4 separate regions of the Homo sapiens genome follow, and regions 1, 3 and 4 are each linked to region 2. The links come from fine-mapping of genetic effects on gene expression. A gene starts in region 2. Each other region holds a variant in brackets. All regions are shown on one strand. Distances are between the middles of the regions.

Region 1 (8,108 bases), 50 kb before region 2:
CTTATTTCTGCGCCCCATCCCTTATTTCCGTGCCCTGACCTCTTATCTCTGAGCCCCAACCCCTTTTCCCACTTTTCTGGAAGGTAAGAACCCCTGAACCCCTTCCTTCCATTTCTCTACTCTCTCTTTTCTCTAGGCTTGCTTCCTTCACTATGGGAAACTTCCACCCTCCATTCCTCCTTCTACTCCCTTGGCCTGTGTTCTCAAAAACTTAAAACCTCAACTCACACCTGACCTAAAACCTAAATGCCTTATTTTCTTCTGCAATGTCTCTTGACCCCAATACAAACTCGACAGTAGTTCCAAATAGCCAGAAAATGGCACTTTGAATTTTTCCATCCTGCAAGATCTAAATAATTCTTGTTGTAAAATAGGCAAATGGTCTGAGGTGCCTGATGTCCAGGTATTCTTTTACACATCAGTCCCTTCCTAGTCTGTGCCCATTGCAACTCGTCCCAAATCTTCCTTCTTTCCCTCCCGCCTGTCCCCTCAGTACCAACCCCAAGCGTCACTGAGTCTTTCTAATCTTCCTTTTCTACAGACCCATCTGACCTCTCCCTTCCTCCCCAGGCTGCTCCTTGCCAGGCCGAGCTAGGTCCCAATTCTTCCTCAGCCTCTGCTCCTCCACCCTGTAATCCTTTCATCACCTCCCCTCCTCACACCTGGTCCGGCTTACAGTTTCGTTCAGTGACTAGCCCTCCCCCTCCTGCCCAGCAATTTACTCTTAAAACGGTGGCTGGAGCTAAAGGCATAGTCAAGGTTAATGCTCCTTTTTCTTTATCCCAAATCAGAAGCGTTTAGGATCTTTTTCATCAAATATAAAAACCCAGCCCAGTTCATGACTCCTTTGGCAGCAACCCTGAGACACTTTACAGCCCTAGACCCTAAAAGGTCAAAAGGCCGTCTTATTCTCAATATACATTTTATTACCCAATCTGCTCCCGACACTAAATAAAACTCCAAAAATTAAATTCCAGCCCTCAAACCCCACAACAGGATTTAATGAACCTCGCCTTCAAGGTGTACAATAATAGAAAAAAGTTGCAATTCCTTGCCTCCACTGTGAGACAAACCCCAGCCACATCTCCAGCACCCAAGAACTTCCAAACGCCTGAACCACAGCGGCCAGGCGTTCCTCCAGAACCTCCTCCCACAGGAGCTTGCTACATGTGCCGGAAATCTGGCCACTGGGCCAAGGAATGCCCGCAGCCCGGGATTCCTCCTAACCTGTGTCCCATCTGTGTGGGACCCCACTGAAAATTGGACTGTTCAACTCACCTGGCAGCCACTCCCAGAGGCCCTGGAACTCTGGCCCAAGGCTCTCTGACTCCTTCGCAGATCTTCTCGGCTTAGCGGCTGAAGACTGACGCTGCCGGATCGCCTCGGAAGCCCCCTAGACCATCACGGACGCCGAGCTTCCGGTAACTCTCACAGTGGAAGGTAAGCCCGTCCCCTTCTTAATCAATACGGAGGCCACCCACGCCACATTACCTTCTTTTCAAGGGCCTGTTTCCCTTGCCTCCATAACTGTTGTGGATATTGACGGCCAGGCTTCTAAACCTCTTAAAACTCCCCAACTCTGGTGCCAACTTAGACAATACTCTTTTAAGCACTCCTTTTTAGTTATCCCCACCTGCCCAGCTCCCTTATTAGGCTGAGACACTTTAACTAAATTATCTGCTTCCCTGACTATTCCTGGACTACAGCTATGTCTCATTGCCGCCCTTCTTCCCAATCCAAAGCCTCCTTTGTGTCCTCCTCTTGTATCCCCCCACCTTAACCCACAAGTATAAGATATCTCTACTCCCTCCTTGGCGACCGGTCATGCACCCCTTACCATCTCATTAAAACCTAATCACCCTTACCCCACTCAACGCCAATATCCCATCCCACAGCACGCTTTAAAAAGATTAAAGCCTGTTATCACTCGCCTGCTAAAGCATGGCCTTTTAAAACCTATAAACTCTCCTTACAATTCCCCCATTTTACCTGTCCTAAAACCAGACAAGCCTTACAATTTAGTTCAGGATCTGCGCCTTATCAACCAAATTGTTTTGCCTATCCACCCCATGGCGCCAAACCCATATACTCTCCTATCCTCAATACCTGCCTCTACAACCCATTATTCTGTTCTAGATCTCAAACATGCTTTCTTTACTATTCCTTTGCACCCTTCATCCCAGCCTCTCTTCACTTTCATTTGGACTGACCCTGACACCCATCAAGCTCAGCAAATTACCTAGGCTGTACTGCTGCAAAGGTTCACAGACAGCCCCCATTACTTCAATCAAGCCCAAATTTCTTCCTCATCTGTTACCTATCTCTGCATAATTCTCATAAAAACACACGTGCTCTCCCTGCCAATCGTGTCCGACTGATCTCTCAAACCCAAGCACCTTCTACAAAACGACAACTCCTTTCCTTCCTAGGCATGGTTAGCGCGGTCAGAATTCTTACACAAGAGCCAGGACAACACCCTGTAGGCTTTCTGTCCAAACAACTTGACCTTACTGTTTTAGCCTAGCCCTCATGTCTGCATGCAGCGGCTGCCACTGCTTTAGTACTTTTAGAGGCCCTCAAAATCACAAACTGTGCTCAACTCATTCTCTACAGTTCTCCTAACTTCCAAAATCTATTTTCTTCCTCATACCTGATGGATATACTTTCTGCTTCCTGGCTCCTTCAGCTATACTCACACTTTGTTGAGCCTCCCACAATTACCATTGTTCCTGGCCCAGACTTCAATCCGGCCTCCCACATTATTCCTGATACCACACCTGACCCCCATGACTATCTCTCTGATCCACCTGACATTCACCCCGTTTCCCCAAATTTCCTTCTTTCCTATTCCTCACCCTGATCATGCTTGATTTATTGATGGCGGTTCCACCAGGCCTAATCGCCACACACCAGCAAAGGCAGGTTTTGCTATAGTACAAGCCACTAGCCCACCTCTTAGAACCTCTCATTTCTTTTCCATCGTGGAAATCTATCCTCAAGGAAATAACTTCTCAGTGTTCCATCTGCTATTCTACTACTCCTCAGGGATTATTCAGGCCTCCTCCCTTCCCCACACATCAAGCTCGAGGAATTGCCCCACCCAGGACTGGCAAATTAGCTTTACTCCACATGCCCTGAGTCAGAAAACTAACATATCTCTTGGTCTAGGTAGACACTTTCACTGGATAGGTACA[A/G]GCCTTTCCTACAGGGTCTGAGAAGGCCACCGCAGTCATTTCTTCCATTCTGTCAGACATAATTCCTCAGTTTAGCCTTCCCACCTCAATACAGTCTGATAACAGATGAGCCTTCATTAGTCAAATGAGCCAAGCAGTTTTTCAGGCTCTTAGTATTCAGTGAAACCTTTATATCCCTTACGGTCCTCCATCTTCAAGAAAAGTAGAAAGGACTAATGGTCTATTAAAAACACACCTCACCAAGCTCAGCCACCAACTTAAAAAGGACTGGACAATACTTTTACCACTTTCCCTTCTCAGAATTCAGGCCTGTCCTTAGAATGCTACAGGGTACAGCCCATTTAAGCTCTTGTATAGACGCTCCTTTTTATTAGGCCCCAGTCTCATTCCAGACACCAGACCAACTTGGACTGTGCCCCAAAAAACTTGTCATCCCTACTATCTTCTGTCTAGTCATACTCCTATTCACCGTTCTCAACTACTCATACATGCCCTGCTCTTGTTTACACTGCTGGTTTACACTGTTTTTCCAAGCCATCACAGCTGATATCTCCTGGTGCTATCCCCAAACTGCCACTCTTAACTCTTGAAGTAAATAAATAATCTTTGCTGGCAGGACTATGCTGAATCTCCTTAGGCACTCTCTAATCAGATATCCTGAGTCATCCCAATTCTTAGACATTTTATACCTGTTTTTCTCCTTCTGTTATTCCATTTAGTTTCTCAATTCATCCAAAACCGTATCTAGGCCATCACCAATCATTCTATATGACAAATGTTTCTTCTAACATCCCCACAATATCACCCCTTACCACAAGACCTCCCTTCAGCTTAATCTCTCCCACTCTAGGTTCCCAAGCCACCCCTAATCCCGCTTGAAACAGCCCTCAGAAACATCGCCCATTCTCTCTCCATACCACCCCCCAAAAATTTTCGCTGCCCCAACACTTCAACATTATTTTGTTTTATTTTTCTTATTAATATCAGAAGGCAGGAATGTCAGGCCTCTGAGCCCAAGCCAAGCCATCACATCCCCTGTGACTTGCACGTATATGCCCAGATGGCCTGAAGTAACTGAAGAATCACAAAAGAAGTGAATATGCCCTGCCCCACCTTAACTGATGACATTCCACCGCAAAAGAAGTGCAAATGGCCAGTCCTTGCCTTAAGTGATGACATTACCTTGTGAAAGTCCTTTTCCTGGCTCATCCTGGCTCAAAAAGCACCCCCACTGAACACCTTGCGACCCCCACTCCTGCCCGCCAGAGAACAAACCCCCTTTGACTGTAATTTTCCTTTACCTACCCAAATCCTATAAAACGGCCCCACCCCTATCTCCCTTCACTGACTCTCTTTTCGGACTCAGCCTGCCTGCACCCAGGTGAAATAAACAGCCATGTTGCTCACACAAAGCCTGTTTGGTGGTCTCTTCACACGGACGCGCATGAAAGTTTGTGTAAAGATTTATTATACCAAAACTCTGTGAGCAGTTCATTAACCTTCAAGGAACTACCATGTATTACATTCAAAGACAAAGAAAATCAAAACTTTATCTATCTTGGGGCAGCCACGATATTGAAGACAGGTCCGTAGTATTTTCTTGATTCTGAACATTAATTTTGAGCTCTTTCAGAGAAGTAGAGGAAGATGCAACATGGAATGTCCTTTATACATCATTATAACTCCTCCCTGGCTTTCTAGCTTGCCCTGAGGTGACCCACGTTTTAATATGCAACTTGAAAGTCTGTTTAATTTAGAAAGAGTCATGACCAGGAATTTTCAGAGCAAATTTTAAAAGTCATGATGGGGACTGGAAACTAGACCTAAACTTGAAAGATGTTTGTCAGCAAGGTTTTATTGTATTCCATTCGAATCTGCAAGCAGACAAAGCACCAATGATAACGTAGCACCAGCAATAACAATTATAGTAATAATATCTGCCATTTTTGACCATTATCCTGCAATAAGCATTGTGCTTGATATGCATGATTTCGTGCAAGTCTCACACTAACCCTTTGAGGAGACAATACATTTTGTATCCTCATTTTATATACAGAACAAATGGTAGGAGAATTGGGTTATAACAAGGAATCAATAAACAATGTAAATGCATGCTATATGATAGTAGTAGTATCTTCACATTGAAAATAATTTGGCTTCAGTAAAACACATTTTAATCTGTCCTGTTAAATTGCTAATTCTACACTTAATCTTAATTTTTAAGTTTCATGTTTAAGGACTATGAACAGAAGGGTTTTAAATCTTAGGTTTAAATAATAAAAACTAATTCAGTCAGTAATCAGATATATATATATATATATATATATATATATATATATATATATATATATATAGAAAGAGAGGGGAAGAGAGAGAGAGAGCATAATATTGTGATTTATTTTAAGGAATCTGCATTTTACTCAAATTTATGAAGCATTGGAGTACACACTGATAGCTGCAAGAAGACAAAAGCAATGGCCAGGTGTGGTGGCTCACGCCTGTAATCCCAGCACTTTGGGAGGCTGAGGTGGGCAGATCACTTGAAATCAGGAGTCTGAGATTAGCCTGGCCAACATGGTGAAACCCCATCTCTAATAAAAATACAAAAATTAACCAGGCGTGGTGGCACATGCCTGTAATCCCACTTACTTGGGAGGCTGAGGCAGGAGAATCGCTTGATCCTGGGAGGCAGAGGTTGCAGTGAGCCCAGATCACACCACGGCACTCCAGCCTGGCTGATAGACCAAGAGTCCCTCTCAGAGAAATAAAAAAAAAAAAACAAAAAAAAAAAAACAAGAACTGATTATGCTAATCCTGGAGGAAAGAGATCGATGGTAAAGAAATAAAGAAACATGTCAAAAGAGTACTCAGTCATCTAAAAGCCTCCTGCCCAGAAGAGTTGTTGCATTTTTCTTCATGGCCCCAACTGCTAGAATTACAATTAATGGGTGGAGGAAGCCACACACACATGGACCAACACACACATACACACATGCACCCACACATTTACACACACGCACACACACACACAGTTGTGGCAAAATTGAATGAGCTACCTTGGGTGGAAATGAACCTCCTTTCACTGGGGGCATTTCAACAAAGACTTCCATGACTAGTGTGGGCAAGAAGGGTTGACCAGAACATTAAGACCCCTTACTGTGCTAGGATTCTCTGCCTCTTAGGGGAAGAGTGTTGAAGCTGGGAAGTCAGAATTAATGTCACCATTTTGCCATGACTAGATCTGTTTGTGTTGAAACCTCAAAAAAATAGGCAGTATCTTGAAGACACAGAGACACCAACCAGGGGAGGGAAAGTACTTGTTTTTTCCAAGGAACTCCTTAACAACGACAAGGGGGTAGAGGAAGGAAAGTATTAATAACTGGGCTGATGACATGTGAATGACAATAGAACAGCCTCTCATGCCTTGCAGATGATAATCTCCCCAGTGACCTTTCTCCTTGCTACACGTTTTCACAGAGAATCCAGCTCCCCAAACCTCCTTTCCGCAACTCACCACACTCCCACCTAAGACATGCATTAAATTGGCTCATTCCTCATGCCAGAGAAGTCTAGATAGGAGAAAATGAGTCTTTATTGGCAAGAAAGAGCCAGCAGACAGATAGCAGATGAATGGGAAGGAAAGATCACTCGGCTATTTTAAGAGAACTGACAGGAGGCGGGTACAGTGGCTTATGCCTGTAATCCCAGCACTTTGGGAAGCCAAGGCGGGCAGATCACTTAAGATCAGGAGTTCGAGACCAGCCTGGCCAACGTGGTGAAACCTTATCTCTACTAAAATTACAAAAAGTAGCCAGGCATGGTGGTGCACGCCTGTAATCCCAGCTACTTGAAAGGCTGAGGCAGGAGAATCACTTGAACCTGGGAGGTGAAGATTGCAGTGAGCCAAGATCGTGCCACTTCATTCCAGCCTGGGCGACAGAGTGAGATTCCATCTCAAAAAAAAGAGCGAGAACTGACAGGAGATGCACAGATGAGCATCTCTGAGAAGTGAAAGAGCCCAGGTCACTGAAGCTGATGGAGACCTAGGGGAGCTTGGTGACAGTGGAAATGGCCACATTCGTGTCACGGTCCAGCATCTGTGGCAGAAAAATATAACAATCAATTAAAGTTACAGTAAATAAACAAATACAGACCAATTACATATCTTCCTCCTTTTCTGCAGTATAAAAAGCAGTGATCACCGTTTCCAAATTTTACAGGATGTTGATAAGTGGGAAAACATACTTCAAATTATTTTGTTTCCATAAAGAATGTACGTAATATTTCTGTAAAGTTGCATTGATTCAACATACCTAAACCTGATTTCTTGTATATAGTAAATAAAACAGTGCATATCTTATTTTTCCCTGGTTTATAAGTTATCAAAAAAATGGATAAAAAATTATGCCTGAGCGGTTGTGTATTTCCTCCATATAATGGTTCCGTATACACTCATCATAGCATACCCCCTCTGCCACCCAGTTTAATGTTGCAACCCTTGCCATTCCCTCTTACGGGTGTCATTCCTCTAACTCTGCTTTTTCTTTTCCCCATAATTACCCTCAAACGCAATGGATAACATACTTCTTTGCTTTGTTTATTGCTTGTCTCTTTCTGCTAGAATGAGGACTCCGTGAGGGCAGAGGGTCTCTGTCTGTGCTTTCCTTCATATTTCCCGTGTCCACAACAGAACCTGCCCCATGGGGCACTTGGTTCATATTTGTTGACTAATTAATTGCCCATTGTCTATTTTCCATCTGCTTTTAACACTCATTGTAGATCCCTTAAAGACAGAAACCATTTCTACTGTGCGACCCCAGCACTCAGTGAGCGCTTTAGCGACGTAGAATGGATGAGGAAAGAGAAAGCAGCAGCCCTTCGCATTCAGAAGCCGGCCTGGATCCCACAGCCAGG
Region 2 (8,094 bases):
AAGTTCCGAGTTGTGGGAAGATGGGTTGTGGCAGCTCCGGGAGCAGACACATAGGATTTCCTCCTTCCTCAGCTCTCAGGAGGGCCGCTGGATCCAAGGCAGGGGTCAGGTATTTCCGAGATGAAGTGAACTGAATAGGGCGGCTACCCGAAAGGCAGTCCTCAGCATTATTCCAGGAAACATCAGGGCAGAACCTGAAAGAGGAAAAGAAGTACACAGCTGAAAGTTAGGGTGTGTTTAACGTAGTGAGTGGAACCTCACCGCCCACGTGTCATCCCCTCCAGGAAATGCCATTTCCTCTTCCAGGAAACAAAGGTGTGGAGAACTTCTGAGAGCAGCCACGTTTATATAACTAAGAGACAGTGTCTAATAGAAAACAGAAACACCCCATGGCCTGGGAAAGGAGATGGCGGGTCTACAGGATGCTGGCATCAAGAATATCTAGAGGTGTCCACTACACCTAATGGATACCAAGAACAGATGTGAATTTTTTGTTTTAGATGAAATTTTACGATAAAAAAATCCCAATTTTGTAGATATATGATGGATGTTGTTTTAAAAGATCTGATCTTCAGGTTAACGGGTTTCCTGTTGTAGGACTATACGATTATAGGACAATTGAGTAGCCAAGAGTCCTCAAAGATCAGTTGTCCAAAAGAGAAAGAAAGAGAAAACTGAGTGTACGATGTAAGAATGGAGAATTGGCTGGGCGCAGTGGCTTATGCCTGTAATCCCAGCACTTTCGGAGGCTGAGGTGGGCGGATCACCTGATGTCAGGAGTTCGAGACCACCCTGGCCAACATGGTGAAACCCGTCTCTACTAACAATACAAAAATTAACTGAGCATGGTGGCAGGCACATGCCTGTAATCCCAGCTACTCAGGAGGCTGAGGCAGGAAGAATCACTTGAATCCAGAAGGCAGAGGTTGCAGTGAGCCAAGATTGTGCCACTGCACTCCAGCCTGGGTGACAGAACAAGACTCCATCTCAAAAAAAAAAAAAAAAAAGGAGAATTAATTATTCAGCAGCTCTTGAGATGGTGGCTCCAGCCTGACCTGGGTTTGAATCTTGGTTCTGGTACTTTAGTAATTGTGGGATCTTGAGCGAGGTACATAACCTTTCTAAGCCTTGTTAGTCTCTTCTGTTAAAGAGAGATGATAATGATGATGATACATATCACATCAGATTATGAATATTATATGAGTAGTGCGTCTAAAGTCATCACAGGCTGGGCATGGTGGCTCACCCCGATAATCCCAGCATTTTGGGAAGCTGAGGTAGGAGCATCACTTGAGCCCAGGAGTTTTAAACCAGCCTGGGCAACATAGTGAGACCCCGTCTCTACAAAAAAATCTTTTTAAATATTAGCTTGGTCATGGTGATGTGTGCCTGTAGTCCCAGCTATTTGGGAGGCTGAGGTGAGAGGATAACTTGAGTCCTGGGGGATCAAAACTGCAGTGAGCTATGATCACGCCGCTGCACTCCATCCTGGGCAACACAGCAAGACTCTGTCTCAAAAAGAAAAAAAAAAGTCCTTATCATACCTGGTGTATATATGAAACTTTTTCTAAAGCCACTAACTACTGATTAAATTAACAGGACATATGAGCTTCCTTTCAGTGCCTAATTGTCAATGAGAAACCCAGATATGGAGCGTGAGGAATCTACCATCTTCTAGGCACAGTAGCTGTTATCCGTTTGCCATTTCTTCTTTGCACTGTAACAGGATCCGCTGAAAAACAATTGGAGAAAGAGCCAGATGGATGGCAGTCTGAACTAGGGAAGCTTCTGTTTTGTAGTTTGCAGAAAGAATCTGCATGGGGATCACTGCTTAAGCTTTGCCTCTTTGTTTCCAGACACAGACGCACTTTCCTGCCTAATTTCCATAGCAAATACCCAATGAGCGCCTACTGTATGCCAGGTTCTGATGATGTCAGAGTGAGCCAGCACTTCCGAGGTACTGGCCACTCTCAAACCTCCTGGCTAGGATCTTCCAAGAGCTACAGCCTCTGGCCTGAGGGTCAGTCCAATGCTGTTAGATATTGACAAATGCGGGGCTAATTTTAATGGAATATAGTTTTATCCTTAAAAGGTGTGTGTGTTTTGGCTTTATTTGGGTTCATATAGATTAGGGGCATCATCATAACTCGCTTCCTAGTGCAGACCTGAGTGATTTAATCAAGTCTTGAAACACTTCGGGGCCTCAGTTTTTCATCTGCCTTCCCAACCTCTGAGGTTCTTTTTAGTTGACATCCTACATTCCCATGATCAGAAGGCTGCTAATTCAACTTTTGGCTTTTGTTAAACCTTTTTTTTTTTTGAGGCAGAGTTTTGCTGTCACCCAGACTGCAGTGCAGTGGTGAGATCTCAGCTCACTGCAACCTCCTCCTCCCAGGTTCAAACGATTCTCCTGCCTCAGCCTTCTGAGTAGCTGGGATTACTGGCACGTGCCACAACACCCAGCTAATTTTTGTATTTTTAGGAGAGACACGATTTTGCCATGTTGGCCAGGCTGGTCTCAAACTCCCAGCCTCAAGCGATCCACCCGCCTCAGCCTCCCAAAGTGCTGGCATTACAGGCATGAGCCACCGCACCTGGCCTGTTTTGTTTTGTTTTAATCGTTTTTAATGTCTCTCTCAAAACAAGAAAAGAAAAAAGGACAAAAAATTACTATTTTACTTCTCAGATTAATCTGATCTTAGTACACTACAGCAACAAAAGTCTTAATCAAGTACGTTTTAATTATTTGGTGTCATCATTGCAAGGAAACCATTCAGTAAGAATATTAGTAACCAGACATATAATTTTCTAACCTGAATGAGAAATTAGTTACATGGAGTATAGAAAAAGAAACCACCCCGTTTATCCTCCCTGTGACCATCATTAGTATTACCCGCAAGGCATAAAAAGTCCTAAAATGACACGCACGGCGGCAACATTACCTTTGCAGCTTCAAGCACAGTAAAGTTGAAAGCAGTCCCACCTTGGCAATTGTGTATAAAACGACAATGTGCAGATACAGGAAAAGTCCCAGGTCCGAAGCCACCTAGGAACGATGACCCCAGGACAGAAGTGTGCCCAAACAAATGCCTGGGGTAGGTCATTTTAAAAGGAACAATGTTTACAAGCCCTTTCTAGCGTGAAAAACAGAGAAAAGAGACCCAGCTCTTTCCACCCAATCTGCTGGAGCGCCGTTTCGTTTTCAGTTGGGCGAGAGGGAGACATGTGGCCTCTCGCCCCTTTTCCTGACTCTGAGAATGTGGCCGGAGCCGGGGCGCTCCTGCTCCGCCTCGCCGCCCTCCCGGGGCTGTCCTGGGCCCTCCGGCCGCCGCCTCCCGCTCCAGTTCGCAGCTGGGCGACAAGTGGCTGGTAAGGAGGCCAGGGGCGGGAGCCTGGGCGCGGGACCGGGGGCGCACGGCGGGGGACCGAGCGCGCGTCCCTGGCTAGAGGTGCCGGGTCCCGGGAGGCCGGGCTGGCGGGGAGGCTGGCGAGCGCCCCCTGGCGGGCACCGCCTTCTAGGCGCACCCGCAGTGCGCCGGGCCCGCCAGCCCCGCCAGCCCCGCCAGCCCCGCCAGCCCCGCCAGTCCCCGCGCAGTCCCCGCGCAGTCCCCGCGCAGTCCCAGCGCCACCGGGCAGCAGCGGCGCCGTGCTCGCTCCAGGTAGGGCCCCGCGCCCCGCGCCGCCGCCGGGAGGGAGCGGGCTGGAGGGGCCGAGACCCGTGGCGAGAAGGGCTACCCGGGCCCCTCGGAGAGCCTCCGGGAAGGGGTGAGGGCTGCCGGGTGAGCAGGCGGAGTAGGAAATGGAACCAAGCGGGCGCAAGAGCGCACCGGGAAGAATTTCCCCGCTGGGTTTCTGGGACGCAGGTCGCACGGGATGCGGGATGCTGGCGACCTTAGCCGGGTGGGGGCCGCCGGCCTGGGGGCGCTTCCTCCTTTCTTCTCCCTTTTCCTTCTCACCTGAACGAAAGGGGGCCTGCGGGGAGGGAAGAAGGTGGAAAGTTTTTGTATTCTTGGTAAAAAAAAAAAAAAAAAATGCGTGAGGAAACATGTTTTCTGGAGATGGTATCCTGTCCACAGGGGAGCATAACCCCTTTTCTGGGAATGTATTGGAGCACGGACGGGGGTGCCATTGCTCAGGCTTCTAAACAAGCCAAGTTTCTGGTCAAGGGCCTGGGGGAGGGGGAGGCAGGTCTTTGAAAGATACCAAAAAAAAAAAAAAAAGAAAAATCTGCGTGCTCATTCCTGTAGCCTCAAGTGAGGTTATTCCCCAGCTTTGAGGGCCAGGTTAACCAAGCAAAGTTTGTGCAATAAAGTATCTTTGTGGTATTGGATTTTCGAGAGCCACCGTTATCAATGGGAGAGTGACTGTTGAATGCTACAGGCGTGTGCACTCCCCCGTGGGCATGAAGAGAGGTCCACGGGCTGGCTGGATTGGGAGACTCCGGTCATTTCTGCAAGGAGAGCGCCACAGGACTGCCTTGTTCCCTGGGCTGTCCTGCCCCTGTGCGGGCTGGACGTGGTGCTATAAAAGATGATTCAGGAGTGGCACAGGCTGAGGGGGACTAGGCTGGAGAAGGTGGAGGGAAGAGGGAGCACTCCGTGCCCTCTTCCTGTCCATGGGAAATGAACCATCTGTGCCTGGTGTCCAAGTCCTTGACGTTCCAGTTGCCCTTTGAGAGCACACCTCAAGCCTGCTGAATTCTTTTAAGAACCACCTACAAGATCTGAGAAGTCCGCCCATGCTTTCTGTCAACTCCGGCCTCTTTGACCTTTTCTTTTGCCAAAGAAAATTCTAAACCACTGGGATTCGTGAGGCTCCGTGAGAGAGGCAAGAAGCCTGGAGGGTCCACTCCGTTGCTCTTTTCCCTTGGTTTGCTCCCTAGAAGCCATGGTCCCCACTGGGCCCTTCTTGCCCGAGGCTGTGTGATAGACAAGCCCTATTCCTAAGGTCCTGGGTCCCCCACCCCACCCCACACCCCGACCTTGTGAATCATCATCTTCATATTTTCCCTAACTTATCTTTGGTAACCCTTGTAAAATGGCAGGCTTACTGCGGATGCTTAATCTCTTTTAAAAGTGCTGTGTCTAGCGGGAAGAAGAGTGACATTTACTAATATGGTTGCAAATTACTTTTGAAGTTTATGCACAGCTGTTTAAAATCCCTCTGAGATCAGTGCCATTGTTTGATGCAGGTGCTTACCGCAGAAGGCTCTTGTTAGTCCCTTCCTCCTGCTGATTGAACATACATATATTTAAAGACGTGGCGTAGGGAGAGCTTCTAAAACCTGCAAAGCCAAAGCTGCACAGCTCCTGCAAGTTAGCGATCCACTCTAAGTTTTTCAGTTGTTGTTTCTGTCTTCTTGCCTCTCATGAACTTCTGTTTCTGATTTCAAGAGTAACCTGCTGGGCACCATCAGCCTTTGTTTCAGTGACCTGCGATTTTCTTCTACACTTTAAAAATGTCAATATCCAGGCAAGACTCTTGTCACCCACCATCCGCGTTGTCATGTTCATTTCCGCTACTGTCTTGTGCTGTGGTGCCTCGGGATGGCAACTGTTACTTGAGGAGCTAACTTCTACCTCTGTTCTCCTACAGACATGTCCTCATTGCGTCTTCGCTCACCATACACGGTGCAGCTCCTGGAAATTTGATTTGTTTTGCTGTCTCACTTCTCCTTCAGGCAACAAGGGGATGGTGTTCGATTATTCACACCTCAGCTCCTTCTGTAATCTCAAAGATCCCTTTCAACAATAATACTCTCTGTCTCTTGTTAACGCCAGGCATCAGAAGCCCCCTTACATAGCCGGCTTGTCACTGGTCATTTCTATAAAGTATTCTCATTCTAACACATGCTGTCTCTTCCGTGGAAAAGACTAAATTCTTCTCTGCAATGAATTAGATGTTTTAACCAAAATTCCATGTGGACTGGGTCCAGAATTTTCTTTCAAGAGTATGGGCTTGTGGTACAAGTATGTAACTTCGGGGATTCAGAAGTAGACCTACACAGACAAATCTCCTTATAACGTGTTATTTAATTATGGTATATTTGCCTTTCTGGAAATTAGGAATTAGAGTTAGTACTTCCTGTTTTTAATGCATTTGATTGATGTCTTAGAGTTGCTGATTATGTTGTTGCCCCTAAAAATGTTGCTAATGTGCTGGTTTGTTAACAAGGTTATATTTGATTTCAGGTGATTTCCTTTTTATGGAGTTCAGTCTTTAATTTTTTTCAATAATTTGCCTCAAATCATTTAAAATGATATATTGTTATATAATGAAAATCCCAGCAATATAGACGTGATTCCGTGTGTGTGTGTATGTGTGTGTGTAATCTGTAATTTAAAATAGAGAAATTAGTATTGTGACGGCATACATAGCATTAAACTCATGCTTGCTGTTTCTGTTGTTTTAACACTTTAAGCAGCTCATTTCTAAGCAGCTATGTGTTCAGCTCAGCTTTTTCATACCTATTCCAATTGTTAAGGAAGAAGTCATGAGAAACTATAGAAAAATGTGATGTTGAACCAGAGAGATGGATTAAAAGCTGTTTCCTTACAATGGTGAAAATATCTTTCATTATTTTAACATGCCAAGCATTTATACATGTCAAATTCTGATTGCTCTGTCATCTAAACACATTCTTGGGGACAAAATGAGCATCAGAGTTTTAAAATTAGGAAAGCTCACTCAAGCCCAGAATCATAGATTTTTGCTCCTGGATTAAATTAGCAAGTATTTGGCAGGACATCTTTCTGCAGGTTGCTGTAGGTTGATGTTAGCTTTTGAATTAAGCTAATAGTATTAATTATAATAATAATAATCAGCATCAACAAAACCAATGAAATATGGTTTTGAGTCTTTATTATTTAGAATTTATGTGCTGTATATCATACTCAGAATTTTATTTATATGTAAGAGGCATTACTGCTTCATTTAACCTCCAAAAGCCTTTATAAATTAGATATTATTATTATTCCAGTTTTTCAGATGAGGAAACTGAGGCTCAAGGGGTAGAGCCCCTTGTCCAGGTCTTATAACCAGTCAGTGGTAGAGTCAGGTTAGTTGGACCATCCAGATTAGTCTAACCATCAAGCATTTGCTTTAAACCGCAGTCCCAGGTGACCTACCAGTTAACTTTTTTATTGTGGTTAAAATACACATAACTTAAAATTTAACTTCTTAACTATTTTCTAGCGTACAGTTCAGTGACATTAAGTATATTCACATTGTTTTGCAACCATTGCCATCATCCATCCACAGGATTCTTCTCATCTCCTAAAACTGAAACTCTGTCCTCGTGGAACATTCGTTCCTCATCCGTCTTTCCTCTCAGCCCCTGGCAGCCACCCTTCTACTTCCTGTCTCTAAGATTCTGACTGCTCTAGGGACCTCACAGAAGCAGAATACAGTATCCATCCTTTTGTAACTGTCTTATTTCACTTAGCATAGTGTTCTCAAGCTGTATCCATGTGACAGCATTGGACAGGACTTCCTTCCTTTTTAAGTCTGAATACTATTCCATTTATGGATATACCACATTTTGCTTATCCTTGTATCTGTTGATGGTTGCTTCTATCTTTTGATTATTGTGAATAATGCTGCCGTGAAGAGGAACACGCAGATATCTGTTTGAGGTCCTGCTTTCAATTCTTTGGGGTATGTACCCAGCAGTAGAATTGTGGGGTCGTAGGGTAATTCTATGTTTAATTTTTTGAGGAACTGCCATATTGTTTTCCACAGTGGCTGGACCGTTTTACATTCCCACCAGTGGTAGAAAGGGTCCCAATTATTCCACATTCTCAGCAACGCTGTCTTTTGTTTTGTGTTTTTTGAGATGGAGTCTCGCTGTGTCGCCAGGCTGGAGTGCAGTGGCATGATCTCAGCTCACTGCAACCTCTACCTCCCAGGTTCAAGCAATTCTCCTGCCTCAGCCTCCTGAGTAGCTGGGACTATAGGCACGCGCTGCCACACCCAGCTAACTTTTGTATTTTTAGTAGAGATGGGGTTTCACCATGTTGGCCAAGATGGTCTCGATCTCTTGACCTCATGATCCACCCACCTTGGCCTCCCAAAGTGCTGAGATTACAGGCGTGA
Region 3 (8,108 bases), 32 kb before region 2:
GGTCACAAGTTGTTTGCCAGGAAAGACACAAAATCTGGCAAGACACAAATGCCCCGTGAAATTCATTGATAAGCAGTTTCCGTTGTAAATATGAACATACAAATTTATTACATACCCTTTATTGCACTTATACAATGAAATGACTAAGAAGATTGTAGTTCTTCATCACTTTATCAGCACAATCTGTAGGTCTAGACTTAAATTATCCTCTTCTTTCTCACATCTCGTTTTCAGAAATCACCACATGGACTCTCCAACATGATTGGCAATATAAATGCTAATAAATGATAACACAGAGGGCATAATAAATACTTGAACAGAAATTGCAAAAAAAAAAAAAAAAGAAAATGTCACAATAAAATTCTCTTCTAACCTATATAAACCTTGCCTTGCAATGCTTACCACAGCAAAATGCCAGAGCAGAAGCTGAGTTGCAACACACACAAAAATTCCTTCCTTAGAATGGAAATGTCCCTGCAATTTACTATTAGGTTGGGTGCAACTTGCTTGCTCCCTTGTATCTGTCAGGAGTGCAGAAGGTTGGTCAGGGGAGGTGATCTTGGGAGGGAGAGACTGGTATCTTCAGACTAGAGTCTTTCCATGGGCACTATAGCATCCACCGATTATCAACAGCCTTCCCCAATTTGCACAGAAAATTGAGAATGGACTCCTGCAAATAAACACAGTCCTGTTCACAGCAACACAACAAGGATTAAGGATCCCTAACAAAATCCCAACAGGGCTGCTACATCACCAGCATTGTGCAGTATGTGAAGTTCAAAAACTGGGGTTTATCCGTAATGTGATACCAACTTACTCCTGCAAGAATGGCCATAATCAAAAAATCAAAAAACAGTAGATGTTGGCGTGGATGCAGTGATCAGGGAACACTTCTAATTGCTGGTGGGAATGTAAACTAGTATGGCCACTATAGAAAACACTGTGGAGATTCCTTAAAGAACTAAAATGGAACTACCATTTGATCCAGCAATCGCATTACTGGGCATCTACCCAGAGGAAAAGAAGTCATTATAAGAAAAAGATACTTGCAGATTCATACGAAAAGTCATTATACGAGAAAGATACTTGCAGATTTATAGCAGCACAATTCACAATCACAAAATTGTGGAACCAACCCAAATGCCTATTAATCAACAAGTGGATAAAGAAACTGTGGTAGAAATATACAATGGAATACTTCTCAGCCATAAAAAGGAATGAATGAACGGCATTTGCAGTGACCCAGATGAGATTGGAGACTATTATTCTAAGTGAAGTAACTCAGGAATGGAAAAGCAAACATTGTATGTTCTCACTGATATGTGGTAGCTAAGCTGTGAGGACACAAAGGCATAAGGATGATACAATGGACTTTGGAGACTTGGGGGAAAGGGTGGGAGGGGTCAAGGGATAAAAGACTGCAAATAGGGTGCAGTGTATACTGCTCGGGTGATGGGTGCATCAAAATCTCACAAATCACCACTAAAGAACTGTAACCAAACATCACCTGTACCCCCAGTAACCTACTGCAAAAAAAATTTTTTTAATTAGGGTTTACTTTTTCATTCACACTCCCTTGCAGAATCACCAGTGACATCTCACAAGATGCCATTAGAGAAACTGTGTCCTAGAGCGTAGCTTAAATGAGCATGCACATTTATGTCTGACTATTTCTGCTAAAGAGTTCTTAAAGAACAGATGTCAGCCTGCTGATGCTCCACTCTCTCATTGCCCTATGCATTTGAGTGTTTCAGAAGAAATTCATATGACCCCGCTGGGGCAGAGATTCGTCTGATGCCATGAAACTTCGAGTAGACACGAAGGAAAGGCAAGAAATTAAACACAGGAGAACTTGGTTCAGTATCTGGGGCCAGCAAGGAATTATGCACTTAGAACCCAGATGATAGGTCTCAGTGAGGCAGGTTATCTCCACCTCTCCCTATCCCCACCCATCAAGCCCAAAGAAGGTGGATTAGTCTGTTTTCATGCTGCTGATAAAGACATACCCAAGACTGGCTGATGTATAAAGAAAAAGAGGTTTAATGGACTCACAGTTCTGTGTGGCTGGGGAGGCCTCACAATCATGGTGGAAGGCAAAAGGCACATCTTATATGGCGGCAGGCAAGAGAGAATGAGAGAGCCAAGTGAAAGGGGAAACCTCTTATAAAATCATCAGATCTGGTGAGATTTATTCACTACCACAAGAACAGTATGGGGGAAACTGCCTCCATGATTCAATTATCTCCCACTGGGTCCCTCCCACAGCACGCGGGAATTATGGGAGCTTCAATACAAGATTTGGGTGGGGACACAGCAGAACCATTTCAGAAGACATAAAGGCTTCTCTCACCTGGAGGATCCTTCACACTAAAGGTTCCTGGAACAGGCACCACCGAATCCTGGATTCATCTATAGCAGGAACAGGTAAGGGATCAGAGAACAATGATCCCTTACCCCATTACAAAATGTTCATATTTTAAATGTCTCCTTTACTTTCTTGCTAAGTACATGGTAAAACCTAGTGAAAGCAACATTAGGCAAGCCCAAGTCCTTATTTTTGTCGATTTTTTCACCCAGACCAATATTTGGGGTCTGCTCTAGTTCACAGATTGGTCTCATTTTGAACTCATGTTGATAAATCTCCAATAAACACTCTTCATGGCCTGGAAATTCTTAGAGGCTTTTCAGGTAAGCCTGCTCTACCAGCTCTTATCAAAGTGACCGCTCTCTTGCGTGTTACCAAATATGTTGGATATTTGTATCCTGATTTTACACCACCTTTTAGTAGCATTTTGTGCATTTCACTATCTCATCTTTTATTTTTTGCTACAAGAATATGTATTCATTGTAACAACTTTATTGAGATATAATTTACATACCATGCAAATAATTCATTTAAAGTATACAATGTGGTGGTTTTTAACACAATCTGTTTTGGAATATTTCATCACCCCAGAAAGAAACCTGTACCCACTACCCATCACTCTCTAATCCCCCCAGCCCTCCTTCCAGCCCTAAGAAACCAGTAATCCACTTTCTGTCTCTAGAGATTTATCTATTCTGGATATTTCATATAAATTGAATTATATATCATGTGATCTTTTATGACTGGCTTCTTTCACAGAGTATGTTTGCAAAGTTCAGCCATGTTGTAGTATATATCAGTATTCCATTCCTTTTTATTGCCAAATAATATTTCACTGTATAGATCTACCACATTTTGCTTATCTATTAATCACATGGCGGGCATTTGGGTTATTTCCAGCTTTTAGCTATTATGAACAATGCTGCTGTGGTCATTCATGTACAAGTCGTTGTGTGGACATATGTTTCATTTCTTTTGGGTATATGCCTATGAGTAGAAGTGCTGGGTCATATGTTAACTCTGTGTTTAACCTTTTGAGGAACTGCCAGACTGTTTTTCAAAGTGACTAAACCATTCTTACATTCCCATCAGCAATGAATAAAAGTTCTAATTTCTCTGCATTCTCATCAACACTTATTATATCTGTTTTTTTTAAAAAAAATTACAGCCATCCTAGTGGGTGTGAAGTGGTTGTGGTTTTCACTGGCATTTTTCTGATGACTAATGAGGTTGAACATCCTTTCATGTATGTACAGGTTATTTTTATATCTACGTTGGAAAATGTGTATTTAGATCTTTTGCCCATTTTTTTAAATGGTTGACTTGGTGTTTTTTTTTTAATTAGTGAGTTGTGTTATTTATATATTCTAGACACAAGTCCTTTATCAGATATATGATTTGCAAATATATTCTTCAAGTCTCTTGGTTGTTTTTCCACTTTCTTGATGATATCTTTTGAAGCACATGTTTTCATTTTTGAAGTTCCATTTTTTTTCCTTTTGTTGTTTGTGCATTTGGCATTGTATTTAATAAAACATTGCCTAATCCAGAGTCTCAAAGATTTACCCCTATGTTTTCTTCTAAGATTTTTACAGTTTTAACTCTCACATTTAGGTGTTTGGTCCATTTTGAGTTAATAATTGCATATTATGTGAGGAAGGGTCCAGCTGTTTTCTTTTGCATGTAGATATCCAGTTGTTCATGCACCATTTGTTAAAAAAAATTCTATTCTGTTGATTGTTTCGGCAACCTTGCTAAAAATCAATTGACCATAAATGTGAGGGGTTATTTCTGTGTTCTCAATTCTCTTCTATTGATTTATATGTCTATTTTTATGCAGCACCACACATCCTCTTCTTGAAACATTCTTCTCGTGGCTTCCAGACCACAAAACTTTTCTGGGTTTTTTCCAATCTTTCCATCTCCTGTGTAGTTTCACCTACTTGTTGCAGCCATATCCCTGAGCTCTAAATTTGTCTATCTGACTGCTTCTGCTGCATCTCCATTTAAATGTCTCATTTAAGGCATTTCATACCTTACATGTCCAAAACTAAACTTTTGCTTATCTAAGATAGCAAAATATTCTTATTCAAGTCTTCCCATGAAAATGGCATTTCATCCACCCAACTTAGCTAGAAACTTGAAAATCACTTGTCTCCATTTCCTAACATCATCTGTATCAATTGGGATCTAGTCAAAAGACAGAAATCTCACTAGTTATTTTAACAAAATGAATTTAATATAAATAATTTCAACCAGATGTTAGAGAATGCAAAAAGACAAAAAGAAAACATTAAGATATCACAAAACTATTAAATGCGGTGAAAAACTATCTGCCTTAGGTCTGGGGGAACACAGAGATAAGGTTGGAGTTATTAAGAGCTTGGGATTATGAGACACCTGGAGGAAATATTCCATAAAGCAGGACTTAGACCTCTAAGGAGGACTCTCCAGCCAGCCGTTGCTCCTGTCTCAGGATGGGTTTGGAATGGGAGTGAAGCTGAACCTAGCAATATTAGGAAA[C/T]GTGCAAACTGAAATCTACTGTCACTGCCAAGGTGTATTAGTATCATCTTTGCTAGAACCTTGCCAACAGGAACTGGAAGCAAAAAGGAAAGAGCAGGTCTCTTCCTATGATGCCTCTAGCCTTTCAGTGTCCCTTAGTGTCTTCCTTCAGCAGAGCTTAGCAGGTTGGCAGCTGATAATGCAGAAATTTTGTGATATAGAGTCTCCATCTCAGCATCCAGAAGAAATGGGTGTGGAAGGACAGCTTTGAAGCTGAGAAGCAGTAACTTAGTAACCAGCTCAGTCCATCCTTTTGATTACTCAGCACCCACACTTCCTGTTGTTTCTGCCTGAATGCTCTGGACCCTACCTGCCTCTCTAGCCTCAATCCCTAACTCACAGTATGTTGACCATTTTAACATTCTTTCAGATCCCCAAATCCCCAAAATGATTTCTGGCCTTAGGATTATCACATTTCACCTGGACCACTCTCTACCCCATATCCATACCAGTTCTTTGCCTGACTGGCTCCTTCTCATCTTCAAGTCTCAGTTAAACTATCTCTTCCACAGAGCGGGCATCCTTAACCATGCAATTAAAGAAGCAACTGACTCTTGCGTATAACAATTTTTCTTTTCCATCATTGTATTTATATATTCATTGTATGTTTATTCATGTGACAATTTTTTATGTCTGTCTCCATCAATAGAATATGAGCCCAATATTTACCTTGTTTATCACTTTATATATAACATCCATCATAGCACCTGATATTTCGTAATGCTGAATAAATATATGTTGAATGGATGCTACTGAACCAACCCACTGTGTTGTCAGGGGTACCATATTCATCTGCAAAAGAGATCCGTTTTGTTTTGGGCAAGTGTTAAGTCAAGAAGTGGAGGTGAACATTTAAAAAACCTAGTGGAGAGAATATTTTTCTTGGCCTAATTGTAACCATGGTGCACCCAGACCTGAGATGCATTTAAAAACTTTTTTAGTTAAAAAAAGAAACATTTCAAGAAACAGGATCATAGTCATCTGGAAAATAAAAACAGAAAATGGGTATTTGGAAGAACTGGAAAATAGGTAAAAGTAGTTCAGATTATGAATACTTTGAAGGCCAAGCACAGGATACACAGCTGTTTGATTTCCCCTGAAAACTCAGCAAAAAGGATGAGCTTCTGTTGCAGTAGCAGTGGTCTAGTTTTACCAACAGGAAGAAATTCCAATAAAAGTCATGTGTCATTTGAATAGATCAACAACAGGCAGGTAACATGTGTATTCAGTAGAAGAAAGGGGATGTTTGGGACTTGAAAGTGGAAGAGAGGAATAAGGAAACAGTGTCTTTCAAATTGACTTAGAATTTCCTCTTTTCTGTGTTCATGTTTTTCACTAGCTGTTCCCAAGTGTCCTCAAACAAGTCATTTTTCACTGCAAGGATAAGTCTCAGCCAATACCTTTCACCAGATAACATGGAAGATTCCTAACTTATAGTAGGGGCCAGCATCATGGGCATGCAACCCATGTAGTCACAAAGAGCCCTGTGCCCAGAAGGGCAACACACTTGACATGAGGTTCTGCTGTTGCCATCATGAAATTCATCGATTTCTGATTAAGAGATCCTGCATGTTTATTTTGGACTAGACTCTGCAAATGGTGTAGCTAGTCTTACTCATAGTCTAAGTTCTGAGCCATATTATGCTAAAAGAATTTCCACATATAAGTCCTTCCCAACCCTGGGCTTCATTTGATAACTTTATTTTATTAATATGAGTTTAGAAGGTACTATGTCCAATCACCCTTCCCAGTCCCTGAGATTCCCTCCCCTGCCCTTGATGACATGCACGATTTCTGCTACATAATAAGCATGGGTGGGAATTCACTATAATTTGAATTTCCCAAAATAAAGATCACAAATTAATAAATCTGCTAAAGATGATCTTGCACATAACTAAATGACTTTTGTGCAAGGGGACATTTAAAAATATATTCCCCGAGTGTAAATTGCCTCCCTCCTTTCTCTGCTACCTCAGATCCCTGACCTCACACCAACTAGAAATACAGTGGAAATTATCAGTACAGCATTATTAATTCTAGTTTTCCACTAAAAGACCTGTATTGTTGAAACAAGACTTTATACATGAAGCATTTTGTAGTTCTGTGAGTGCTTTCACATACTTTGCATCATTTGACCATCACAACAGATGTGTGGTAAGCAGAGTGGATCTTATAATTCCATGTAGTAACAGTGTCAAGGGCAAATACAAGGAGATGGCAACTCAGGGTCAAGTCTAGCCTAGACCACTTCCTTGGTTGTAAAATGAAGATGAAATGTGATCATATGTGTGAAACTCCTAGTACAGTGCCCAGCGTGGAATACATAGGCATTTTTGCTGTTGTGTGCATGCCACCCTGGAGAAATTGAGGACAAACATGGTCCTGATTAGAATCCCATCCACTCACCACCATCCGTCTCCAGCAGTTCCCACAAGCATCCTGCTTTCTCATGGCCCCTTGACTTTCCACCTGCTGCTCTGTCCAAAATTGCTGCTGCCCATTTTCCATCTGGTTAACTCCCACTTACTGTTAAAGACTTATCTCATGTGGCCCTTTTTCTAAGGCTTTCCCCTCTCAGCTCTTCTCCAGGCTGTGTTAGGTGATCCTTCCTGGGACTCCCGTCTCCCTCTCCTAGGTATGGCTGCACCGTGTTGTGCTATAGCTGCCTGCTCCCAAGTTTGTCTCCTCTGTTGCCAATACTTACCTTTAGGTCAGGTAATCTCTGTTTTGCAGTTCTTGAGTAGATGTTCAATCAATATTCTTTCCTTAAATGAATGAATACATAAATGAATAAAAGAAGGTAGGAAGGAAGCAATTAATTTGCTTTTTGTGTGTGCCCCTTGTAACATAACTGAGATGCCAACAGCTTTTCCACTATCCTGGAGATAAGCCAGCACTCTGTTTTAAAGCAGAAAGCAGCAGGGCATGATTTCCCTCAAGGAAAGCATTTCTTGAGTTTCCAGGGATCTAGCCTGTGGCCACAGGTTTAGAAATGATAAGACAGCTGAATCTGAGTTGGGGGAAGGAGCATCAGTTCATTGCAAAGATCATTTTTCTTGGCACTAGTCAAAGAAGAGGACAGAGACATCTGCATGTCCCAATGACATCACTTGGCCCTGCCTTGCACAATAGAGGAAAAGAGCTGTCAGGGCAAATTTCCAGTTTATCTAGACATAGCTGG
Region 4 (8,108 bases), 25 kb after region 2:
GATTAATTCCCACTCATGCAGCCCAGGCCCAAGCTCTCACCTTCTGCCCTGCTTTTAACGGCAGCACATGTCACCGCTGACGGGACCTGCCTCTCTGCGCGTGACCATGCACTTGGGACTCTCTAAATGTCTCACCGGAGAATCAATAGCCCTAGTTCAGCTCTGAATGAAGTTTCTCGTCGCCCCCTTCTCTTACACCCTAAGGATAAAGACTGTCTCTGAGAATTTTCCCCAAATCTTCCTAACATAGAGATAAAAATAGTAAAATAAGAAATTAGACCCCTCAACTTCAACTTTAAAATCTTATTTCTCTTCCTGCATCACGGTGACCACCTCCTCACAAGTGCAAGAATAGATGACGATATTCCAGCATGCTGTGATTCTCCTAAAAACCTGCTGCTCCTAGGGACTCTGTGGAGTGAGTTTCCTGGACCGAAGTCACTTCTCAGATCTTCATGTTACACCCATGATGTTTGCTTGCTAAACCATCAGCTTAAGTTATTTATCCTGTATCTTTTATCTCAGTTTTCTGGTTGCATTTTATCTGTGTCATCTTTACTTTAGTCAAGCTAACGCTGTGGTTTTGCAAATTAAATCAGCTGTGGGTTTCAGTATGTAACTCCTCTTTGTGTTTACTAAGCCTTTTTTAAAAAAAACAAAATAGTACTGTATGTCTGTTTACATCTTTAGTAGTGTGTAAGGGAAGATTGTTTTCTTTAGAGTTCTTTTGAACAATTTCAAGGCTATTCAGAAGGATCCATTTTAAGAAACCAAAACATCTTTTTAAAATGCCTTGTTTAATATATATCTTTAGCCATAATGGAATCCCCTTAAAATTTTGAAGTTGATCTGTAATAAAGAGGTTGTGTGGGTCATGAGTCTGGACTTTATAGTTCAGACAAAGAGAATCTGCTTCATGTTTCAAAGCAAGGAAGAGATTTTTTTAAAAGACAGCTCACATGGCCCGTGTAGGGGTGGAAAAGGCAGCGTGAAAGAGCAAGGGGATAAGTAATTAAACATCTATTGGAATCATGAAATTATTAAGAGAAAATGTCTGAAGTTCCAGAGCTAAAAGACTGAAGAGCAGTGATGAAATGCAACAAAAATAACCAGAAAAATCCATGGGACTTGTTGCGTAGATGGTTGGAGGAGATGAAGATGAAGGAGAACTCAGCTGGTTCCAATATTTCTAGCTTGGAAGACTCAGTAAGTGGTAATTCCATTGATCAAGACAGGACAGAGAGGAGAGGTACAGACACTGGAAAAAGTAGAATTCATGTTTGTTTCAGTTGTGTTTGAGGGGCTGGTGGAACATCACCTGGAAAGGTCCAATATGGAGTTGAATACAGGGGACCGAAGAAAGTGAATGTATAGTTCAAGAAAGATATTCTTTTTGAGGCTACTACTAGGTAGAGGGTCATAGGAGCCATCAAAATAGATGAGATTGACCAGAAATGTTGGTTTAAAAAAAAGGGGGAGGAAAGTCAAAATGTATTCCAAAATAGTTAGGTAAAGAAGTGAAACCAACAGAATAAGCTGAAGAGTGAGCTGAGAGGGAAGGAGAGCAGGAGAGAAGAAGGGAGTCGACAGTGTCCTGTGCAGTGTCAAGGAGGAAGACCAAGAAATTGAATTAAAATACAATTGATAGTACAGAGTTACATTTGGTATAGAGAAAGGTCTCTGGAACAAAAGGAAGAAGGTCTCTGGTTGAGGAGGAAGACCATTTCCAGCCGCAGGGTCTGGAAATGACCAAGTCATCAGCGCTCTTGCAGGGAGCAAGATAGATCCACAGAGTGCTGGCTGGAGGAATCCATATGGCAGAGGGCAGAGAAGCGAATGGAAGGGGAGGAAGCAAAGATGGTTCAGGAAGCTGGTTGGTGAAGGAAGGGAGGTAAGGCCATAGCAGCGGGAGAAGCCACGGCAGAAGTTGTTAGAGGTTGCAAAACCGGAGGGTGTTTATAAGCGGGAGTGGGAGACAGGCAGAAATCACAAGAATGGCAAGGGGTTAAAGAAAAGAACAATTCCAAGAGTGTGTACAGGGTTAGGATCATGTATGCATGAGGCATTCAGGGAAGAACTAGATGGAGACTGGGATAAGTTGAACCAGAGCGAAGGAAGTTGAGCCATTTATGTCTTGCGGCTTCCAGTTTTTCCTTAAAATTAACAAGCTCATCTGCCGAGGTGGAGAAGGCAGAGTCATGGTTTTGGAGACATAAGGGGAACAAGTGTGGGACAGCCCGTTTAGGAAATTGGAAAATAAACAGGCCAGGAATAAGATCAAAAATAAAGCCAAGATTGTTGGCAAATTCAGCAATAAATCAAATGCTTACATAATTCATTGTTTTTTATTGTAGTGAAAATAAACATAAAATTTACAATTTTAACCACTTTAAGTGTAAAGTGCAGTGGCATTAATTAGATTCATGACTGTTTCCAGAACGTTTTCATGACCCAAGCAGAAGCTCTGTACCCAGTAAGCAGTAACTCTCCATTTCCCTCTCCTTTCAGTCCCAGGCCACCCCCTTCTACTCTTTGTCTCTATGAATTTGCCTCTTCCAGGTAGCTCATATTAAGTGTTGCTTTTTTTTTTTTTTTTTTTTTCCCAAGACAGGGTCTTGCTTTGTTGCTCAGGCTGGAGTGCAGTGGTGCAATTACAGCTCACTGTAGCCTCTAACTCCTGGGCTCAAACATTCCTCCCACCTTACCCTCTTGAGTAGCTAGGACTACAAGCGTATGCCACTGCACCCAGCTGGTTTCTTAAATTTTTTGTAGAGATGTGAGTTTTGCTATGTTGCCCAGGCTGGTCTCTAACCCCTGGCCTCAAGTGATCCTCCTATCTCAGCCTCCCAAAGTGCTGGGATTACAGGCATGAGCCCTCATGCTAACCTATTTGTTGCTTTTAAAGCATTAATCATGGGATAAGAAAAAGGAATAAGTTATTCTTCTGCTGTATAACACTCTGTAAATGAAGAGGTCATTCCTAAACCATATCCTGGTTTTGTTGTTGTTGTTGTTTGTTGGTTTTTTGAGGCAGAGTCTCGCTCTGTTACCCAGGCTTCAGTGCAGTGGCACGATCTCAGCTCACTGCAACCTCTGCCTCCCGGTTTCAAGCGATTCTCCTGCATCAGCTTCCCCAGTAGTTGAGATTACAGGCATCCACCACCACCCCAGCTAATTTTTGTTTTTTTAGTAGAGACGTGGTTTTGCCATGTTAGTTAGGCTAGACTTGAACTCCTGATCTCAAGTGATCTGCCCACCTTTGCCTCCCAAAGTTCTGGGATTACAGATGTGAGCTACCGTGCCCACCTGGCCCATACCCTGTTTTTTTTTAAATCCACCATGTGGTATCCATTTATAAAACCTTATTATTAATACAATGCTATGAAATTGATATAATGCTTTACCCTTAAAGTGATTCAAATCAGCTGAAGCTTTGAACCTCTCTAAATCCTACTTTGAATTAAATATTTTCTTTATCATACGCATACACAACAATGAATGTCTTTTTTCCCCCATCCAAATGATAGCACAGAATTGTGAATCTGTTTCTGTTTAGTGTTCTCTTCCAGAGGATTGCATTATTCACTGAATGTCTGTTGTCTGAAATAGAAGTTCCCACAGTAGTTTGTGTACGCATCATTTAGGAAGATAAGTGGTTTTTCCTGTTATGTATACAAATAACCAGTCTGTGTTAATGTCTATTATGGGTGACATGAACAGATCCTTCTCGAGGAGGTTTACATGTGTCACTATAGCATTAGATCTTTTTTTTTTTTAACTTTTATTTTAGATACAGGGAGTATATTACATGATACTGAGGTTTAGGGTGCGATTGATCCCATCACCCAGGAACTGAGCATAGTACCCAATAGTTAGTTTTTCAACCCTAGACCCCCCCCCTCCCACCTTTACTTGTCCCCAGTATCTATCGTTGCCATCTTTATGTCCATGAGTACCCAATATTTAGCTCCCACTTCTAAGTGAGAATATGCATTATTTGATTATCTGTTCCTGCATTCACCACTTAGGATCATAGCCTCTAGCTGCAATCATGTTGCTGCAAAGGACATGATTCCATTCTTTTTTGTGGCTGTATAGTGTTCCATGGTGTCTATGTACTACATTTTCCTTATGAGCATCTAGGTTGACTCCATGTCTTTGCTGTTGTTAATGGTGTTGCCACGAACATAGATATGCGTGTGTCTTTTTGGTAGGGTGATTTATTTTCTTTTGGATATATACCCAGTGATGGAATTGCAGGTTCAAATGGTAGTTCTGTTTTAGATTCTTTGTAGACTTAGTAATTTTTAATGGAAATGAATTATCTTCCCAATGAAAGTAAATTCTAATAAAAGACTTATTGAAAGAAATGTCTGATATTGGGATCATTTTCCTAACACAATTTCCATTTTCATTTTCTGTAAAGCCCCCACAAGAGTTGACAGAGTTCCTGAGGTGGCGATGAGTGAGCCGTGCCTCTTTCTACAGTGGATGTAGTGGATGTGGCTTACAGATGCCTTTTACATTTCCAGCTGTAGACAGAAAATGCCAGAGGCCACAGCATTTCCCCAGGCCCTGAAACTAAGCTAACACCCTCTAAATATTGCCAAATCAAAGTAATAGAAAGGAAAACTGTTCTCATATTGTCTCACTTCCCCAAACATATCTCCCCTAATTCAGTTCCAACCACACTTTAATTCCCAGTTTGGACCCCCATTTTTCTCCTGAAACTACTGCTGGAGAGTTCTCTCTCTTCGGAGTTGCAGTTCCTTCTGCAACGTTGCATGGACTTTGGTACCAACTGGCCTTGGTTGCTTTGTATATGAGTCCTGTATCCCAAGGAGACTATAATCTTCCTGACGGTCGTGGGTTTCAATTCCTAGAATCACGAAATAGCAGCACTTTACAGATGAGAACATTAGACCCAGAGAGGTAAAGTAACTTGCCTAAGGTCACACAGCTGAATTCAGCAAACAGGTGAATTAGTCTTTCTTCCCTACTTGAACTACTACTTGAATGAGTGCTCCGAGACTTGATGTCTGCGACACTCTGTTTTTTTTT[A/TA]CTGTTTCCACTGCACTTTTTTGTTCTAGAGACCTTTCTCCATACCAAATATAATTCTGTACTATCAATTATATTTTAATGTATAAAATTATAGTCACATTTCAGGTCCTGCCTCCCAGGGATAACCTTGACTAAAGTTTTAGGTGCTCAGAAATAATTTAGTGACACATTTATAGATTTTAAAGTTTGGTAAGAAATTTGGAAGTAACTGCCAAAGTTGAAGATATGTGCATACCGCAACTTTGTAGGTCTATTGCTTTGCATGTATTCTATCGAAACTCTCAAATATGTTCCCAAGGAGGTATCTACAAGGATGTTCACAGCAGCATGAGTTATAAGAAAGTGGAGGAGAAGGAGGAGGAAGGAAGAAGAAGGAAAAAAAGGAAAAGATGAAACATCAATAGAAGAAAAGATGGATAGCATATTTCTTTCTTCTTCTTCTTCTTTTGTTTGTTTGTTTTTTTTTTTTTTTTTTTTTTTTTTTTGAGACAGGGTCTTGCTCTGTCACCCAGGCTGGAGTGCAGTGGCACTATCTCGGCTCTCTGCAACCTCCACCTCCAGGGCTCAGGTGATCCTCCCACCTCAGCCTCCTGAGTACCTGGGGCCACAGGAACACACTACCATGCCCAGCTAATTTTTGTATTTTTAGTAGAGGCAGGATTTTGCTATGTTGCCCAGGCTGGTCTCAAAGTCCTGAGCTCAAGCGATCTGCCTGCCTCGTATGTCTATTCCGATGGAATCTGCAGCAGTGGTTCTCAAAGTGTGGTCCAGGAGATCATTAAAACCTTTTCAGGGAGTTTGCAAAGTCAAAACTGATTTCACAGTATTACTGAGGTCTATTTTTCCTTTTCACTCTCATTCTGTACCTTGAAGTTTTCCAGAGACTGCATGTTCTGATAGCCACAGGCTAAACGCAGAAACTGTCTTCTATTAAACCAGACATTAAAGAGATCACAAAAGTGTCAAACAGTGCCACTTTTTTTCAATGTTTTTTGCTTTGAAAAACATAATTATTTATCATAAAATATGTTGTCTTCACGTATTACATGATAGGTTTTCATTATTTTTAATTAAAAAAAAATTTTAATTTTTCTCCTTCTTATTTTCTGATGTGGTAAATATTGACAGATATAATCCCTATAAACCAAAGCTCTTTGTTTTTCTCACAATTTTTAAGAGAATAAAATAATTCTTAGAGTAAAAAGTTTGGTTGGGTGCAGCGACTCACACCTGTGATCCCAGCACTTTGGGAGGCCAAGGCAGGAGGATCACTTGAGGTCAGGAGTTTGAGACTGGCCTGAGCAACCTAGTGAGACCCTGTGTCTACAAAAAATAAAAAAGAAACTAGCTGGGTGTGGTGGTGCATGCCTGCAGTGTAACTAGTTGGGACACTGAAGGGGAGGATCACTTGAACCCAAGAGGTGGAGGCCGCAGTGAGCTGTGATTACACCACTGCACTCCAGCCTGGGCAACAGAGCAAGACTCTGTCTAGAAAGACAAAAAAAAAAAAAAAAGACTAACAGGTTTGAGCCCTGCTGTTGCAGACAGTGAGAATGAATGAATGGAGACTGCACGCACTGAGCCTGAATCTTGGAGGCACGATCACTGGAGTTGCAGGAGAATATAAACAGTGATTTATATTGTGTTTTATAACTAGTAAAACATGCTGTATGCAGAATACATGTTTTTAGGAATATACAGGTATATAAAACATGTATAAAAAGTTATTTTTATATTTGTGTATATCTGAAACACTTTATAATACACTTGAAAAACTATAAATAGCTATATAAGCTCAACAACCACAAAAAAAATTAGAAAATGAACAAAAGACTTGAGTAGACATTTCCTCAAAGAAGATATACAGATAGCCAACAAGCATATGAAAAAAAGTTCACTATCAGTGATCATTAGAGAAATGCAAATCAAAACCACAATGAGATACAGTCTCACACCAGTCCGAATGGCTATTACTGAAAAGCCAAAGAATAACAGATGCTGGCAAGGTTGTGGAGAAAATGGAATGCTTATACACTGTTGGTAGGAGTGTAAACCAGTTCAACCATTGTGGAAAGCAGTATGGTGATTCCTCAAAGAGCTAAAAACAGAGCTACCATTCGACCCAGGAATCCCATTACTGGGTACATAACCGAAGGAATAGAAATCGTTCTATCATAAAGACACACGCACGTGTGTGTTCACTGCAGCACTATTTGCAATAGCAAAGACATGGAATCAACCTAAATGTCCATCAGTGGTAGATAGATAAAGAAAATGTGGGCTGGGCGTGGTGGCTCACACCTGTAATCCCAGCACTTTGGGAGGCCGAGGCAGGCGGATCACAAGGTCAGGAGATCGAGACCATCCTGGTTAACATGGTGAAACCCCGTCTCTACTAAAAATACAAAATATTAGCCGGGTGTGGTGGCAGGCACCTGTAGTCCCAGCTACTCAGGAGGCTGAGGCAGGAGAATGGCATGAACCCAGGAGGCGGAGCTTGCAGTGAGCTGAGATGGTGCACTCCAGGCACTCCAGCCTGGGTGACAGAGTGAGACTCCATCTCAAAAAAAAAAAAAGAAAAAAAAAAGAAAATGTGGTACATATGCACCATGGAATACTATGCAGACACAAAAATGCATGAGACCAGGACTTTTGCAGAAACGTGGATGGAGCTGGAGGCCATTATCCTTAGCAAACTAACACAGAAACAGAAAACCAAATGTGGCATGTTCTCACTTATAAGTGGGAGCTAAATTATGAGAACACATGGACTCAAAGAGGGGAACAACACACACTGGGGCCTGTCAGAGGGTGGAGGGTGACAGTAGAGAGAAGATCAGAAAAAAATAACTATTAGGTACCAGGCTTAGTACCTGGGTGATGAAATAATCTGTACAACAAACCCCCGTGGCACAAGTTTACCTGTATAACAAACCTGCAGGCGTACCCCTGAACCTAAAATAAACATTTAAAAAAAAGAGAAGATGCTCAACATTACTTACCATTAGCAAATACAAATTATAATCCCATTAGAGAAGTGCAAATCA

Alleles and levels. Positions count from the first base shown, and alleles are read on the strand shown. Sizes are in standard deviations (SD) of each study's normalised expression. Not every link is listed here.
For the expression in iPS cells of the gene that starts at base 3,594 in region 2, allele A in region 1 goes with a lower level than allele G (large effect, 1.1 SD a copy in iPSCORE).

What was found. PIP is the estimated chance that this variant, and not a neighbour inherited with it, causes the effect. A credible set is the group of variants that fine-mapping cannot tell apart.
Region 1: its variant is the best candidate, but not a certain one, in a credible set for the expression of PRKCQ in iPS cells (iPSCORE, PIP 0.69).
Region 3: its variant is the best candidate, but not a certain one, in a credible set for the expression of PRKCQ in whole blood (TOPMed, PIP 0.55).
Region 4: its variant is the best candidate, but not a certain one, in a credible set for the expression of PRKCQ in whole blood (INTERVAL, PIP 0.71).

The regions. Positions count from the first base shown.
Region 1 is chr10:6,626,113-6,634,220 of GRCh38, reverse strand. It overlaps LINC02648 (long intergenic non-protein coding RNA 2648), which reads right to left. Exons shown (of 6, transcript NR_120634.1): 5 at 5,844-7,291. Among named protein-coding and RNA genes, the nearest start is that of LINC02648, 11 kb to the right of the region's middle. RefSeq lists an enhancer at 3,901-4,472. The variant A/G (reference allele first, on the strand shown) is at 3,195.
Region 2 is chr10:6,575,776-6,583,869 of GRCh38, reverse strand. It overlaps PRKCQ (protein kinase C theta), which reads left to right and starts at 3,594. Exons shown (of 18, transcript NM_006257.5): 1 at 3,594-3,659. It overlaps PRKCQ-AS1 (PRKCQ antisense RNA 1), which reads right to left and starts at 3,445. Exons shown (of 2, transcript NR_036503.1): 1 at 2,943-3,445; 2 at 1-194. RefSeq lists an enhancer at 89-383 and silencers at 3,183-3,332, 3,343-3,592.
Region 3 is chr10:6,607,932-6,616,039 of GRCh38, reverse strand. No RefSeq gene overlaps it. Among named protein-coding and RNA genes, the nearest start is that of LINC02648, 6.7 kb to the left of the region's middle. The variant C/T (reference allele first, on the strand shown) is at 4,889.
Region 4 is chr10:6,550,928-6,559,035 of GRCh38, reverse strand. The region is part of intron 1 of PRKCQ (protein kinase C theta); the gene reads left to right. Among named protein-coding and RNA genes, the nearest start is that of PRKCQ, 25 kb to the left of the region's middle. The variant A/TA (reference allele first, on the strand shown) is at 5,062.